Regions from separate parts of the Homo sapiens genome. Here region 1 is linked to region 2. The links come from fine-mapping of genetic effects on gene expression. Tissue or cell type: whole blood. Region 2 holds a variant in brackets; the other region holds the start of a gene. All regions are shown on one strand. Distances are between the middles of the regions.

Evidence for each region. PIP is the estimated chance that this variant, and not a neighbour inherited with it, causes the effect.
Region 1: ELL starts here. The variant in region 2 is fine-mapped to the expression of ELL in whole blood (TOPMed, PIP above 0.99).

The regions. Positions count from the first base shown.
Region 1 is chr19:18,518,684-18,526,765 of GRCh38, reverse strand. ELL (elongation factor for RNA polymerase II) reads left to right here and starts at 4,696. Exons shown (of 12, transcript NM_006532.4): 1 at 4,696-4,845. The coding sequence starts at 4,711. RefSeq lists enhancers at 4,203-4,532, 4,676-5,191, 5,192-5,707 and silencers at 4,923-5,232, 5,963-6,012.
Region 2 is chr19:18,443,793-18,451,872 of GRCh38, reverse strand. ELL (elongation factor for RNA polymerase II) reads left to right here. Exons shown (of 12, transcript NM_006532.4): 7 at 225-321; 8 at 898-1,396; 9 at 5,059-5,125; 10 at 5,393-5,564; 11 at 6,605-6,649; 12 at 7,005-8,080. The coding sequence ends at 7,121. Among named protein-coding and RNA genes, the nearest start is that of ISYNA1, 9.7 kb to the right of the region's middle. RefSeq lists enhancers at 64-870, 871-1,677, 5,024-5,552. The variant CT/T (reference allele first, on the strand shown) is at 3,591.

The DNA of each region.
Region 1 (8,082 bases), 75 kb before region 2:
GTGTGAAATTGAATGTGGTTATTCACTCGGCCACTTCATCCTCAAAGGTCTGAGCTGGTTGTGGGTGGTGAGCTGGAGCATCCAGCACGTGTGACGCTGCAGTTGTGTTGAAGGCATGGGATGCCTTTAATGGGTGGTGAAGGGTATCCCTTGTGGATGGCATAGCTGTGCAAGGTATGCCAGCTGGACCATGTGTGGTACCTTTGGAGAACGACGGGGATGGCTTTGTCTTTCATACCAAAGCATTTACTAACACCTCCCATATACCTGGCCTTGAGCAGTGACTCAGGAGGGCCTTACCCGACTTGCCATGGGCTGTGAATTGGAAGTGAGCACTGCGGAAGGAATTTTGTATGTGTACGCGAGCTCACAATTCTGGAACACTTGAACAGGGCGAGCTACACATGTCCTTGTCTCATGTCATTGTCACAGAAGAATCAGGTAGATGCTGTTACACTCCCTGTTTTCTGGATGAGCAAACTGAGGAACAGAGATGGCAAGATGTGTCCAAGACCACACACGGGGTAAGGGGCAGGGTGGGGTCACTGCTTCCATCAGAGAGCTCACCAGGTGGACTATGTGTCCGGGGGGCACCCCAGGGTGATCAACTCACTTGCAATATTGTGGGTGACCTAGTTCCTTTTTTTTTTTTTTTGAGATGGAGTCTCGCTGTGTCACCCAGGCTGGAGTGCAGTGGCGCGATCTCGGCTCACTGCAAACTCCGCCTCCCAGGTTCACGCCATTCTCCTGCCTCAGCCTCCGGAGTAGCTGGGCCTACAGGCGCCTGCCACAATGCCTGGCTAATTTTTTTGTATTTTTAGTAGAGACGGGGTTTCACTGTGTTAGCCAGGATGGTTTCGATCTCCTGACCTCAAGTGATCCACCCGCCTCGGCCTCCCAAAGTGCTGAGATTACAGGCGTGAGCCACCATGCCTGGCCATGGGTAACCTAGTTCTTAAAAATTTCTGCAGACAAAGCCGGACACGGTGGCTCACGCCTGTAATCCCACCACTTTGGGAGGCCGAGGCGGGTGGATCACTTGAGGTCAGGAGTTCGAGACCTACATGGTGAAATCCCGTCTCTACTAAAAATACAAAATTAGCTGGGTGTGGTGGCGTGTGCCTGTAATCCCAGCTACTCAGGAGGCTGAGGCAGGAGAATCACTTGAACCAGGAGGCAGAGGTTGCAGTGAGCCGAGATCGTGCCACTGCACTCCAGCCTGGGCAACAAGAGCAAAACTCCGTCTCAAAACAAAGAAACAAAAATGTCTGCAGACGGCCAGGTGCAGTGGCTTATGGCCTATAATCCTAGCACTTCCTAGCACTTTGGGAGGCTAGGCGACAGGATCTTTTGAACCCAGGAGTTAGAGACCAGCCTGGGCAACATGGAAAAATCTCATCTCTTCAAAAAATACAAAAGATTGGCCCAGTATGGTGGAGCATGCCTGTAATTTCAGCTACTTGGGAGGCTGAGGTGGGAGGATGGGTTGAGCCCAGGAGTTGGAGGCTGCAGTGAGCCGAGATCATGCCACTGCACTCCAGCCTGGGTGACAGAGTGAGAACTTGTCTCCAAAAAAAAAAAAAAAAAAAAAGGCCAGGCATGGTGGCTCACGCCTGTAATCCCAGCACTTTGGGAGGCTGAGGCAGGCGGATCATCGGATCATGAGGTCAGGAGATCGAGACCATCCTGGCTAACACGGTGAAACCCCGTCTACTAAATATACAAAAAATTAGCCAGGCGTGGTGGCACGTGCCTGTAACCCGAGCTACTCGGGCGGCTGAGGCAGGAGAATCGCTTGGACCCAGGAGGCGGAGGCTGCAGTGAACCCGAGATTGTGCCACTGCACTCCAGCCTGGGCGACAGAGTGAGACTCCGTCTCAAAAAAAAAAAAAAAAAAGAAACTTCTGCAGAGCATGCCAACGTCTGATAAGTTCTGCCTTATTTTTCCTGGGGTCTCATTGAGATCCACTGGGGAATCAAATGTAAAGTAGACGTGGAGAAATACTTTTTTTTTTTGGGACCGAGTCTTGCTCTGTCACCCAGGCTGGAGTGCAGTGGCACGATCTCGGCTCACTGCAAGCTCTGCTTCCTGGGTCCAAGCTATTCTCCTGCCTCAGCCTTCTGAGTAGCTGGGATTACAGGCGTGTGCCACCATGCCTGGCTAATTTTAGTGTTTTTAGCAGAGACGGGGTTTCACCATGTTGGTCGTGGTGGTCTCGAACTCCTGACCTCATGATCCAGCCCCCTCGGCCTTCAAAAGTGCTGGGATTACAGGCGTGAGCCACTGGGGGCCTGGCTTTTTTTTTTTTTTTTTTTTTTTTTTTTTGGAGACAGGGTCTTACTCTGTCACTCAGGCTGGAGTGCTGGAATATAGTGGTGCGAACATAGTTCACTACAGCCTCAACCTCCCATGGGCTTGAGAGAGCCTCCCATGTCAGCCTCCGGAGTAGCTGGGACCACAGGGGTGCTCCACCATGCCCGGCTAATTTTTTTAATTTTTTAAATTTTTTTGTAGAGAGGGGGCTTAGCCCTGTTACCCAGGCTGGTCTCAAGCCCTTGGGTGCAAGCGATCCTCCCGTCATGGCATCCCAAAATGCTGGGATTTCAGGTGTGAGACACCTTGCTAGGTCCTGAGTACTGCTCTTATTGCTGTTTCCTGTTTCCGAAGTGAATCCACAGAGGCTCAGAAGCAGGAGGTGCCTTTCACAAGATCACAGAGCGAGCTGGTTGGCCCTCCAAGCCAGCTCCTCCCTTGGCCAGGCGCAGTGGCTCACGCCTGTAGTCCCAGCACTTTGGTAGCCCTAGGCAGGCGGATCACCTGAGGTTGGGAGTTAGAGACCTGATCAATATGGTGAAACCCCGTCTCTACTGAAAATACAAAAATTAGCTGGGCGTGGTGGTGGGCATCTGTAATCCCAGCTACTCGGGAGGCTGAGGCAGGAGAATCGCTTGAACCTGGGAGGCGGAGGTTGCAACGAGCTGAGATGGCACCGTTGCACTCCAGGTTGGGCAACAAGAGTGAAACTCTGTCTCAAAGAAAAAGAAAAAAAAATCTCGGAAATTAGATAGTGGTGACAGCTACACAGCATTGGGAATATATTTTATATGTAAAATGTGACTCAATGAAGTTGCTTTTTAGAAAATGGAAGGCTGGCCGGGCACAGTGGCTCATGCTTGTAATCCCAGCACTTTGGGAGGCCGAGGTGGGTGCATCACTTGAGGTCAGGAGTTCCAGACCAGCCTGACTAACATGGTGAAATCCCGTCTCTACTAAAAATACAAAAAATTAGCTGGGCGTTGTGATGGGCGCCTGCAGTCCCAGCTACTACTCGGGAGGCTGAGGCAGGAGAATTGCTTGAATCCAGGAGGCGGTGGTTGCAGTGAGCCGAGATCACACCACTGCACTCCAGCCTGGGCAAGGAAATCGAAACTCTGTCTAAAAACAAACAAACAAACAAAAACTGGGGGAGGTGGCTCACGCCTGTAATCCTAGCACTTTGGGAGGGCGAGGCGCGCGGATCACCTGAGGTCAGGAGTTCAAGACCAGCCTGGTCAACATGGTGAAACCCCATCTCTACTAAAATACAAAAATTAGCTGGGCATGATGGCGGGCGCCTGTAATCCCAGCTACTCGAGAGGCTGAGACAGGAGAATCGCTTGAATTCAGGAGACGATGGTTGCATTGAGCCGAGATAGCGCCACTGTTCTCCAGTCTGGGCTGATGAGCAAGACTCCGTCTCAAAAAAAAAAAAAAAGAAAAGAAAAGAAAATGGAAGTCTGGGCTTGGTGGCTCACTCCTGTAATCCTAGCATTTCAGCAGACCCAGACAAGGAGGATCAGTTTGAGTTCAGGAGGTCGAGGGTGCAGTGAGCCATGATGGCGCCATTGCACTCCAGCCTGGGCAACACAGCAAGACCCCTCAAAAAAAAATTAAAATAGGAAAATGAAGCTGGACTGCACCATCGCTCAGGGACTGTGGGGATGTAGGATTTTATCCTATTAAAAGTACTCATCTCATAAGAAAAAGTTTACCAGCTCCTCTTCCACCTACCGGTCCAGCACCTTCCCTGGGTGGAAGTCCCATCCACCCCGCCTAAGGGATGCCTTATGTGTCCAACCCAGCGTCCAACGCGCGCGCTCCGTTTACATAGCCACGCCCACCCTCCCGGCCCGCGGCGGGGCCTACCCACCCACGTGTTTCGAGCCGGCTCCGCCCCTCCACGCCCTCTCTGCGGCTTTCCACAGAAGCCAAAGACGGAAGACTGTAGAGATCTCATAAATAATGCATCACGTCAGCGGCTGTAGGGGCGGGGCTTTGACGCGCCTGGCTGGCTGAGTCAGGGTTATGTATAATACTATGGAGGCGGGGCCTGGAGGGGTGCGCGTGTTGAGGCGGAGTTCGTTCACGGAAGTGGCCACCCCTAGGGCCTGAAGAGGCGGGGCCATAAGTGCCTTATGAATATGCAACAACTTGGGGCGTTGACTGTGGGCCTTGTGGGGCCCTCATGGGGCGTGGCCAGGCGCGTCTCCTGAATAATGTAGTGCGCTGCCTGCCGGTGTGGCGGCGACTGTTGGTTTGGTCGGACTCGGGGGGCGTGGCCAGCCGCGTCTCATGAATAATGCAGCGCGTCAGCGGGCGGCGGGGCGGGGCGTGGCCGGCGTGGCGGCGCTGGAGCCGGGAAGGGGGCGCGGGGGAGAGATGGTCGCAAGATGGCGGCGCTGAAGGAGGATAGGAGCTACGGGCTGTCGTGCGGGCGGGTTAGCGACGGCAGCAAGGTGTCGGTGTTCCACGTGAAGCTCACCGACAGTGCCCTGAGGGCCTTCGAGAGCTACCGCGCCAGACAGGTGAGTGGCATGGCGCCCGGCGCGCCAGTGGGGAACGTCCGGACGCGGGCCGGCCTCGCGCTCCCCTCACTGAGGCGTCCGGGCTCGGAGACGCTAGGTCTGTGGTGCTGCTCGCGGGTCCCTGGGCCGGCGGGGCGCGGAGTGGGCGCCAGTCCGGCCTGGAGCGCTGAGAACCGCGTTCCTTCTCAGCACTAGGAGGCAATACAGGCGGGTGGCCCGGGGCTGCTGAGGGGCCCAGACTCGCGCGCCGGGCCCGGGGGGCGTCGGTGTCGGCACCTGGCGGCGTCCGGGGCCTTTCTGGCCTGCTGGGCACCTGGGCAGGGTCCAGTTTGCGCACCTGGCGGCGGGGCGAGGAGGCGGTGGGCCGCACGGTCCCGGCACCGTGATAGGGGGAAGCTGGGGGCTTTTCCATCTGGGGCCGGGGCAGCGCCGTTGGTGGGGGTGACTGTGTCTGTCCTCCTGGGAAGCAGCGATCGTCTGGGTGCCCGGCAGGGGGTGGTCAGCGAGGCACTTGTGGGGGTCTGTTCTGTCTGGGTGGAAGGCTTTGCAGCTGGGGGCTGGCTTTGACGCGTTCCGATGAAGCCACTCAGGTTGGGCCACTTTGGTTCTTGGGACGGGGAGTTTGGGCAGAAACTGACAGCTTGTCCCAGCTTTCTGCTCCCCTTACCCCCAGGTGACCCTCTCTCTCCGGAGAGAGGTTCCTTGGAGAGTGGAAGTGTTGGGGGCGGCTGTGATGTTATCCTCAGGGCACATGTAGGGGATCCCTGCCACCCAGGAGGAAGCTCTGGCTACCACATCTGGCCGCTGACTCTGGAACTTCTCAGAGGCCGATTTGGGCCCATCTGGGGGAAGTTTGAGGCGTTTCGGTTCTGCCACCTGGCTGGTGGTGGGGAGGGGAGGCTGCTGTGTATGTTCTCTTGGGCCTGACTTTGGGGCGCATCTGGGGCCGTGGTCAGAAACCTGCCTTTTTCATTTCTGTTTGTGTCATGGCCCCCCCTCCCCCCGTCTGTGCTGGGTCAGAAGTTGCAGATGACCAGTGGTCAGGTCCCGAGGGGAAGTGGTTTAGGAACCTTGTAACTCCTTTTCTGGAAATTGGGGGCTTCATTGCCCTAAAGGGAGTGGGGGTGGGTCTAGTCTCGGGCTCAGAGAGCCCTGCTCCCTGCGTGTGTGTGTGTTTGTGTATACTGTTGATGGTGGGGGTGGGGGGGTGCCGCGGGCGGGGGAGGAGGGAGACTAACTAGGAAGGAATGTGGCTTTCTTCCTGCCCCGAACTTGTTCAGCTCCATTAGCTAAGCCGAGAATTTCTTCCCCCTGTTTCGTTTCCACCACTCTCCCGGTGCCCACCCCTTCCGTGCTTCTTCCCATGTCTTTGGGCAATTTCCTCCCTGTCCCGGTGTCGCAGTTTTCCCCTTCATGGAATGAGGATTTCATTTTTTTTTGAAAGAGCAAGTTCGCACCTTGTCAAAAAGACTCCCCAAGATGAGGCTAAGGCGCCCCTGCAGGTGAGGAGGAGACAGTGGCAGCGACAGCAGCTGCTGGCCCATGACCAGCCAGAGCCTCTCTTCCTGGTAGAATTCTGGCCCTGGGTCTTTTTCCCTGAGCGATTCTGACTTGTCCTGCAGGAAGGCAGGCTTTCCTAGAAACAGCTGGGGGAGAGCTCGTGAGTCATATAACTACGATGGACTTGGTACCTGGTCACCACTGTCTTCTGTGCTTTAGGAACCAGGAGCTCCGCCTTCTCTCTGATGCTGCCCTCGCTTGCTTTTCAGTCCAGAAGGTCCGCCTGTGTGTCCACCTCATGCTGTCACACTGCTATTTTTACTTTAGGGTATTGGTTACATCCCCTCTCTAAGCTGGATCTTCCTCATGTTAGGGTGAAGGTAACTGTGGACTGTTAAACTCCTCTGGCTCGGAGCCCAGCTGTGTAGGGCAGTGTGTTGACCAGCCAGGAGGGGCTTCCTAGAAGAACTTTTCCAAGCCATCCAGAGCAACTTGGCTGGCTGGATTATATTTTGGGGTGATTCAAACTTGGATTTTTCTCAAAAAGCTGTCTGGTAATTTAAGTGGCTTGGCCACTTTCTTTCTTTCTTTCTTTCTTTTTTTTTTTTTTTTTTGAGATGGAGTTTCACTCTGCTGCCCAGGCTTCATTGAGGTGGCGCGATCCCGGCTCACTGCAGCTTCTGCCTCCCGGGTTCAAGCGATTCTCCTGCCTCAGCCTCCCGAGTAGCTGGGACTACAGGCACGTGCCACCACACCCGGCTAATTTTTGTATTTTTAGTAGAGACAGGGTTTTGCCATGTTGGCCAGGCTGGTCTTGAACTCCTGACCTCCAGTGATCCGTCCTTCTCAGCCTCTAAAAGTGCTGGGACTACAGGCATGAGCCACTGCTCCCAGCCAGCTTGGCTACTTTCGAATTTAATCTTGCCCATGGGGCAGTATAGTGGATGGACTTTTCTAAGGCACGGCAGCTCCGTGCTCTCTGTGGTTTTGGGTAGTGAGCTTGAGGAAGGTGGCTTGAAGAACTTGATTGTGTAACCAGAGAAATATACTGGTTATGGACAAACTCTCATGTGGACAACTCTATCACCCAGAAGCCAGAGTTTTGTATTCCTCGATGCTGTGGTTATATAGTTTGCCAATTGCAACTTGTGGAGAGGGCTTTTATTTTTAATTTCTTTTTTTTTTTTTTGAGACGGAGTCTTGCTCTGTTGTCCAGGCTGGAGTGCAGTGGTGCGATTTTTCGTGTTAGCCAGGATGGTTTCGATCTCCTGACTTTGTGATCTGCCCACCTCGGCCTCCCAAAGTGCTGGGATTACAGGCGTGACCAACCGTGCCCGGCCTATTTTTAGTTTTTAATTGTGAAGAGGCTTTTACAAATTCAGGTGTGGCAGGGGCTAGAAAGGAACTTGCTGTGGAACTTTCTCTGTGGCTCCCAGGAGCAGGTAATCCTAGCTCTGGGAACAGCCCAGGTAGAAGCCCTCCTGTTTTCTCTCCCCAGAGGGCTCTGGTGTTGACCTGGTAGCCAGCTGGAGCAGCGTGGTGGAAGGTAAAGGCGCAGCAGTACACATAGCTGCTGGCCTTCTCACTCTACCTTGGACTTTGTGCAGTTTTTCTTTCCTTTTTTTTTTTTGAGACAGGGTCTTGCCCTGTCGCCCAAGCTGGATTGCGCTGGCGTGATCTCAGCTCACTGCAACCTCCGCCTCCCGGGTTCAAGTGATTCTCCTGCCTCAGCCTACC
Region 2 (8,080 bases):
TCTGGGCTCAGGGGGACAGTGAGTGGGGAAGTCCTCCTTTGGGTGAAGTCGGGGGCAGGATGGCCTCAGGCCCAGGCTCCTGTGACCCCTTGGCCCTGCTCTGGATTTGGGAGGAGGGGGGTCCCTTCCTTGAGGCATCTCCACCGGGCCCCCATGTGGATACAGGCCTGGGGCCCCTAGGCCCCCTCAGCACCTTCTGACCTAGCCCTGCCTCTCCTTCGCAGGAAGCTGTGCCAGCCACAGAGCACTGGCAGCCTCCTTGGAGACCCTGCTGCCTCCAGCCCCCCAGGCGAGCGTGGGCGCTCGGCCTCGCCCCCACAGGTAAGTGAGGCATGCCTGGGGTGACTGTCCCAAGCACCTGCAGGGCACTCTGTGCTGCATCAGTAACCCTTGTCACCTTCCTCACCAGCTCTTTGGAGCATGAGCTGCTCCAAGTTGAGCCGCCTCCCTCCGCCCAGGGACCAAGGGGGAAGCTGTCGGGTTGGGGTTGGGGGCAGATTCCTGCCAGTGTGGCCGCAGCACCCCAGTGTCACAGTGCGGAACCTGGGACGGGGGGCGGCTCCCTGATGTGGGCTCAACCCTGGGCTTCCTGCTCCTGTGTCACAGTTATCACTGGGGAAGCATGCTGAGCACAGCAGCGCTTTAGACCAGTCCCCAGGGGTGGCCCGCTCACACACTGGGCCCTGCCCTCCCCCTGCATCGATCCCAGCAGGCTGATGGGCCCCAGCTGAGGCCACCCTGAGCGGCACCTGGGACCTGACTTGGTGCTCGGGCGCCCCCATGTGGCCAGCGTGGGCCTTGCAGGCGGCGTTGGGTTTTCTAGCCAGGCCAGGGGATTGCCTGTTGCTGCTCAGCCACTCTGTGCTCCCCTCTAAAATGATCTCTGCTCCTCTCCAGAAGCGGCTGCAGCCTCCTGATTTCATCGACCCCCTAGCCAACAAGAAACCCCGGATATCGCACTTCACTCAGAGAGCTCAGCCTGCCGTCAACGGGAAGCTGGGCGTGCCCAATGGCCGTGAGGCCTTGCTGCCCACCCCGGGCCCACCAGCCAGCACGGACACCCTCAGCTCCAGCACTCACCTGCCCCCGCGGCTGGAGCCCCCGAGGGCCCACGACCCCCTGGCCGATGTCAGCAATGACCTGGGCCACAGCGGCCGAGACTGTGAGCACGGAGAGGCGGCTGCCCCAGCCCCCACTGTGCGCCTCGGCCTGCCCCTGCTGACGGACTGTGCCCAGCCCAGCAGGCCACACGGCAGCCCCTCGCGCAGCAAGCCCAAGAAGAAGTCCAAGAAGCACAAAGACAAGGAGAGGGCGGCTGAGGACAAGCCCCGGGCCCAGCTTCCAGACTGTGCACCTGCCACCCATGCCACCCCCGGAGCCCCAGCAGACACCCCAGGTAGGTGCCCAGGCAGGAGGGCGTTGCCGGGGCTCTAAGTACTGGCCCCACACCCGCCTCACCCTCATGGGGTGTCGAGGGGGCTCAAGCTGTAGAAGCCAGGGGAGGGGACCCTGTTGCCCCAGGCCCCATCAGATTTGCCCTGTGTGCCTGGCACCTGGCACCCTATGTTCCTGCACCTGGTCCTCTCCCTGCCTGTCTGGAGTGCCCGGTGCCACTTGCAGTCAATGTGCCAGGCCAGCACTGGGGGCCGGAGGCCCAGAGCCTTGTGGGGAACTGAGGCCGCAGAAGGGGCTAACATGCAGAGAGGAATGGGGCCCAGGCCCCAGCTCTGACTGCAGGGAAGCCCCAGGAGCCAGGGCCATGCTGAGGTCTGCTGGGGTTCAGGGAAGACAGTGGGGGCCCAGGCAAGCCAGCCCTATTCAGGGAGAGGCAGCACAGGTGCAGATGGGCAGATCCTGGTGGGAGAGGGATAGCACCTGGACCTCTGTAGGCACCGTGCGACTGTTGTGGACTGTAGGTTTCTGCTGTGGGGACAGGGCCTGGCAGGCTGGGATTGGGGAGCCAGGAGACCTGGGCGGCTCCGAGACCACAGCCCAGGCACCTAAACTGAGCAGCAGTAGCACCCGCCTAGCACCGTGGCCATGAGCCTGCGCAGCTGTTCATTTATAGGAACCAGCAGAAGCAGTGGCCAGCGTGCAGCGGCTGTTCCACCACCATGTGCGACAGGGGCTGCAGTGGTCCCATGTGGCGATGGCGGCCAGTTGCAGATGGCCACTTCGCTCTCGGCGCCAGCTGGCCCAGGGCAGCCCAGGTGGTGTCACCTGCTGTGCTTTTGGGTTGTGTCTCTGGGGAGGAGGCTGAGTCAGGGGATTCCTGGGATGAGGGTGGGAGCCCTTCTTTCATTATAGCTTTGCGTTGCTCAGAGGGCCATGCCCCGTCCCCTGCTGTGGCTGGAGAGCAGGTCCTCACAACTGTGGCTGGGTCTTACTGGATAGGAAGGAAGACTTTCGGGGTTGGGTCAGCCCTGCCTCGTGCTGGGCTTCCCACCTCCCGTGGGACTGCATGTGGGGGCCGACGGGGAGAAGGTGGCCTTACTCCCTGGGCAGCCTCTCTGACCAGGGCCATGCTCAGGGCAGGACTCCTGATTCCCAGGACACACCCACACCCCACAGCCAGACCTGGGCCACGATCAAATGGCAGGATCTGCCATTTGAGACCCTTGGCCCGGCTCCAGGGTCCACAGACCACTCTGGGCTGTGTCCCTTCCTTGGATGCCCAGTGCCTAGGTGCCAAGACAGGCCTGGGGACTCAAGGTGGTTTCCTGTCTGGCCTGGTGCGTGTTGGCCCCTAGGCAGTTCATCCCCGGCCCAGGGGCTGTCATCTCTACCACAGGTGAGAAAATGCAAAGCAGGGGTAGATGTCCCAAGCACCAAGAAAAGGACAGTGGAGGCACCAGAAGCTGAGCCTGGTGCTGGTGGTCCATGTTACCAGAGTCCTGAAGGTGGTACTTGTGCAGGGCATGTCTTAGCTGTCCTGTGCCCGTGCCCAGGACAAGCAAGTAGAGAGACGTGGGCTGTGAAGGGGAGAGATGGGGAGAGGAGCTGCTGTGGGGGTGTTCTCCGGGGCCCCGAAGCAGGGACCAGCTTGGCCGGCCCCACACAGCCAGAGCTTGAGTAGGAGTCGGGGGCCGCTGAGGTTTGCCAAGGGCTGGACTTTGAAGGTCCCACTGGTACCAGGTTGAGCTGACCCTGAGCCTTGATTTCCCCGTTTGTCATCCTAGCTGGTGAAGATCTTGGGGCATGTCAAATGAGGTAATGTTGACCAGCCTGACACATGGCAGTTATCTGTTGTAGAATACCCACGGAGTCCACTGCGTGGCGGGAGCATGGGCTTGGCCTTCGCAGCTGCGCCTTGCCTCTCACTTCCTTCTGGCCCGGACCAGGGTCAGACCCATTCAATACATGCCCATTGAGTTGCGTCCCTGGGAAGGCCACAGCCTCTTAAAGACAACCCAGGTGGGGGTGGTGGTGATATGGAAGACAGTGTCTGGCCCAAAGTGGGGAGTGTTAGAAACTTTGTGGGGAGTGAGCTTCGTCCACTTTTGGGAATTTGGCAGCAGAGAAGCTGCTGTGGTCAGCCCAGGTGTGTTACACTGAGAGAGAGGGCTCAGCAAACTGGAGATCGCAGACTC[CT/T]GCTCTCTCAGGGGATAGTGCAGAGGGCCCCTGAAAATGTGCACTAGGGCCAGGCACAGTGGTTCCGCCTATAATCCCAGCATGTTGAGAGGCCAAGTCAAGAGGATCACTTAAGTCCAGGAGTTCAAGACCAGCCTAGGCGATATAGGCAAGCCTCCTCATCTCTACTAAAAAGTAAAAAAAAAAAAAAAAAATTCGCCAGGTGTGGTGGTTCATGCCTTTAATCCCAACGCTTTGAAAGGCCAGTTCAGGAGGATTGCTTGAGGTCAGGAGTTTCAGACCAGCCTGGGCAACACAGTGAGACCCCATCTCTACAAAAAAATTTTGTAATTAGCTGGGCATGGTGGCATATGCCTGTAGTCTCACCTACTTGGGAGGCTGAGGCAAGAGGATCACTTGAGCCCAGGAGTTCAAGGTTGTAGTGAGCCATGATCGCACCATTGCAACTCCAGCCTGGGTGGCAGAGCAAGACCCTGTCTCTAAAAAAAAAAAAAAAGTGTATTGAGGATACATCTGAAATTGATAAAATCATTTCTGTATCGGAAAGAAAGCCACTGCAAGAAGGTCTAGAAAACGCACTAAATTGTAGTTGTGGTCTTAGGCGACGCGCACTTCAGTCTTCCTGCCCCTCCCCTCCCTGATTTCCAGACCCTCAGGGGTGTTGTCTTATGTGGCCGGGGCACCCCACCACATGGCTCAGGAGCAGGACAGCTGCCTGGGGTGCCATCTAGCCATCAGCTGTGCTGCTTTGGGCAGGCCCCTGAAGGGGCGAAGGGCTGAGCGTCATCATGGACACTTTGCTCATGGATGGCCGATTGGGGTGGCCCATGGGCTCCTCTGGCTGGCCCTGTCCTGGAGCTGCCTTGTGGAGCGTGCAATTCAGTGTCTAGTGGAAAGGACGGGATGATCTGGGTGGGGCACAGACCAAGGGCGTGGAACTTTGTCAGCAGCAAGAGATGCAGGCCCTGCTGGCCATCTTGTCTTTGTCCTGTCTGGCCAGAGACTGGGATGCCCCAGAGACTCAGGTCAAGCCAGGGGTCATTTGTTTTCAGCTTAGTGACCTTTGACATGCAGTCAGTGGAGGCAGCAAGGGCCTGGCCTGGGGGAAGCTCTGACCGGTTGTGCAGGCTTTGGCCCTGCAGTTCCCTGACCTGTCCGCTGTTTGCCAAGAATGTGACTGTGGTGATGCCTGGGTGCTCTGTGTCCTGCAGGGCTTTGCCCTGGACACGCAGGTGCACGCTGAGCTCTGCTCACCACCTGGAGGGCACGCCCAGGTCCAGCAGCCCACAGTTGCCAGGTGCGAGGGGCTCAGCCCTTGCACCTGCCACACAGTCATCCCCTCTGCTATCCCTCTATGTCCCTCCAGCAGCAAAGTGTACAGTTTTCATGCATGTCCCCATCCTGGCGTGCTTCCTGCCGACCGGTGCCATGGGCGCAGACTCAGGAGGTATGTGTTTGCTCTCGTAGGTTTAAACGGAACCTGCAGCGTTTCCAGTGTTCCCACGTCCACGTCGGAGACGCCTGACTACTTGCTGTGAGTGTTTGTCTGGGCCCTGCAGGCCAGGCCTCCCTTTTCTGGGTTCAGACCCCCTCCCCCAGCACTGCAGGTTATCAGAGGTAGAAGCCACTGCAAGTCTGAGTATGTGAATTCCAAACATAGCAGCCTCTTCTGGGCCAGGCCCCCTCATAATCCAGGGAATCACCCGAGAGGCCAGGCCGCCGGTGGAGCCAGGATGGCCACTTCCTGGGTGGGGCTGGGTCCTTCCAGCCTCCACTCAGTGGCCCCTCTCTCCTGTTTCAGGAAGTACGCAGCCATCTCCTCTTCGGAGCAGCGCCAGAGCTACAAGAACGACTTCAATGCCGAGTACAGCGAGTACCGCGACCTGCACGCCCGCATTGAGCGCATCACGCGGCGGTTCACCCAGCTCGACGCCCAGCTCCGGCAGCTCTCCCAGGGCTCCGAGGAGTATGAGGTAGAGCCCCCCCGCTGCCTACTGTGCCCTGGCTCTGGCGGGAGCCAGGGCCCACTTGGGCGCGCACCATCGCCACCACGAGCTTGGTGGCCCCAGAGTCTGGCCCTTCCCCAGGCAGCGCTTCTCCCCCTGGTGCACTCCATGCAGCAACCCCATGGTTCTGGCCCGGCCCTGGGGTCCTGTTGTGGGAGTCCTTGAAGGCAGCCCAGCTTGTCAGCCTCCTTTGCAGTGGGGACAGCTGTGACCCACCTCCTTGGATGGGGGCGAGCCGGGGTACATGGATCCCCACATGTTTGAGCGCCTGGGGTCCTCTCACAGCCTAGGACACAGGGCTCTTGGTACCTGTGCCAAACCCTCAGGAGACTCCGCAGCTGAGCTCTGTCCAGCACCCTGGGGCCCATCCATGCTGCCACAACTATAGCAGGGGGAGGTGACAGGTCCCTGTGGTCCTGGGAATCAGGACTCCTGTGGTCCCCTGGCTTGAGCTCACAGCTCATTCAGCTGCCCTGTGTATACAGAGAGTCTCCACCCTTAGCCTAGCCTTGGACGTAGCCGCCCCACCTGCCACCTTTCGGAACTGGTGACCTGACTACAGGGCTGGGCCCTGATTAATCAGATGCCGGGGTCTCTCCTGGCCAAGGCCCCTTTGCCTTCCAAAGACGACGACTCATGATGGGGTTCTAGGGGCTGCGAGCCACGGGTTCTTGGGGCATCTCTCCTTCCCCTTCCCTCCCTCTTTGCTGCACCCCCCCACCCCCTCCCCACCCCCCCACGACATGGATACTTCCTTGTCCTGCCACGCCCCCACAACAGCAGTGCCCCACCTGCTATTGCCTCCAGGGGACCCGGCAGCCTTTCCCTCATGCCCCACCCACTCCGGAGCTACAGCCGCTGTGGGCCCCTGGGGTGTTACTTGGCCTTGTCCTTGAGGCTGCCCCACCCTCCCATGCCCCCTTCTCAGAGCACCTGGGACCACTCAATTTGGGTTTCCTGTAGGCGGGGACACATTCTGTTTTCTCAAAATTTTGTTTTTCTTCTAGACTACTCGAGGGCAGATTTTGCAGGAATATCGAAAAATCAAAAAGGTGAGTGTCTCTTGTGTTGGGGTGGGCTCCAAGTGAGCCATGGGAGCTGGAGGGAGGAGGGTGGGCCCGGGGCAGCCTCCCTGCCCGCTACTTCCAAGGTGTGGGGGAAGAGCCTTTGAGTCTGAGGCCAAAGTTGCCCCACCACCCCCAGCTAAGTCTTCAGCTGTGGCATCCTGGCCCAGCCACACAAGCTGTGGAGGTGCGGGGGACCAACTCCCACTCTGCCCTTGGACCACAACCCTCCTTGCTGGGCACCAAGCCCAGGTTTTTGGTTTGGGGGGGACACTGGCCTGCTTACAGCGGGGAGCAGCACCCAGGGCGGCTCTGTCCTGAGCATGACTGTGCTGTCCCACAGACCAACACCAACTACAGCCAGGAGAAGCACCGCTGCGAGTACCTGCACAGCAAGCTGGCCCACATCAAGAGGCTCATCGCCGAGTACGACCAGCGGCAGCTGCAGGCTTGGCCCTAGCCGCCCTCCCCGATGGCGGGGATCTGGGAGGGTCGGGGGAGCAAAAGGCGGTGAGAGAGGATTTATTTAAAAAAATAAACCCGAGGAAGATGCTCATCTGAGCCAGCACCGCCGGCTTTCAGGGCAGCCCCTGCAGACGTCTGGCCCTGGCGGGTGGCTGCAAGCCCACCTCGGCCCTCCCTGCGCTTCCTGAGCAGTCCCTGCTTATGATGGGCTCCCCAGGAAGCCCACTGCCTCCTCCCTGGCTGCAGCCTCCGGGGTTCAGCCTCCTGTCTCGCCAGAAGACTCCTAGGCCCTTGGGGTGGCGCGCCTGCCTTTTCTAGTTTTATACAAAGACAGCCACTTTTAGCTACTGCTAATGAGACTTGAGTCTATTTTTGTACAAAAGAGAAGCAAAATCTTTTTTCTAAACCTGTGCCTCCCTCTCCTCGGACACCCAGGGTCTAGCCGCTGCCCTGGGTCCTGCCTGCAGTATTACAGAGGTCGTCGAAAGGTGCAGCTGCGTTCTGAGGGCGTGGGGAATGGGCAGGTGGCCTCTGCTGGTCTCTGGCTCTACGTTTAGGCACCCCTTTCCCCAGCCTCTCCTCCTTGGGCAGGGTCTCTGCTCCAGCAAGCAAACAGGGTGGCCCAGGTGGCTATTTTGAGAACTCCAGCTGGTGCCCCCAGACAGCTGCTCAGAGCCAAGGGGGCAGAGGGCTTTCAGCGCCCCCAGGCCTGCCCTGCTATTTCAGGCCCTCAGCTGTCGGGGGCCACTGTGTTTCTGTGCTCCAAGTTGAGACTCGGCCGCAGCGGCGTCAGACTTTTCTTTGCGATGTCCTCGGTTTCCCATTTGTTGCTGCTGCTGCTCATTCCACACTGTTGAGACCTTGTGGTCTCGATGCTGCTGGCCTCCCTCCGTCCCTCTGTCCACTTGTGGGTCCTGGGGTCGTCTTAGCAGAGCCACCGCCAAGGTTTGCACT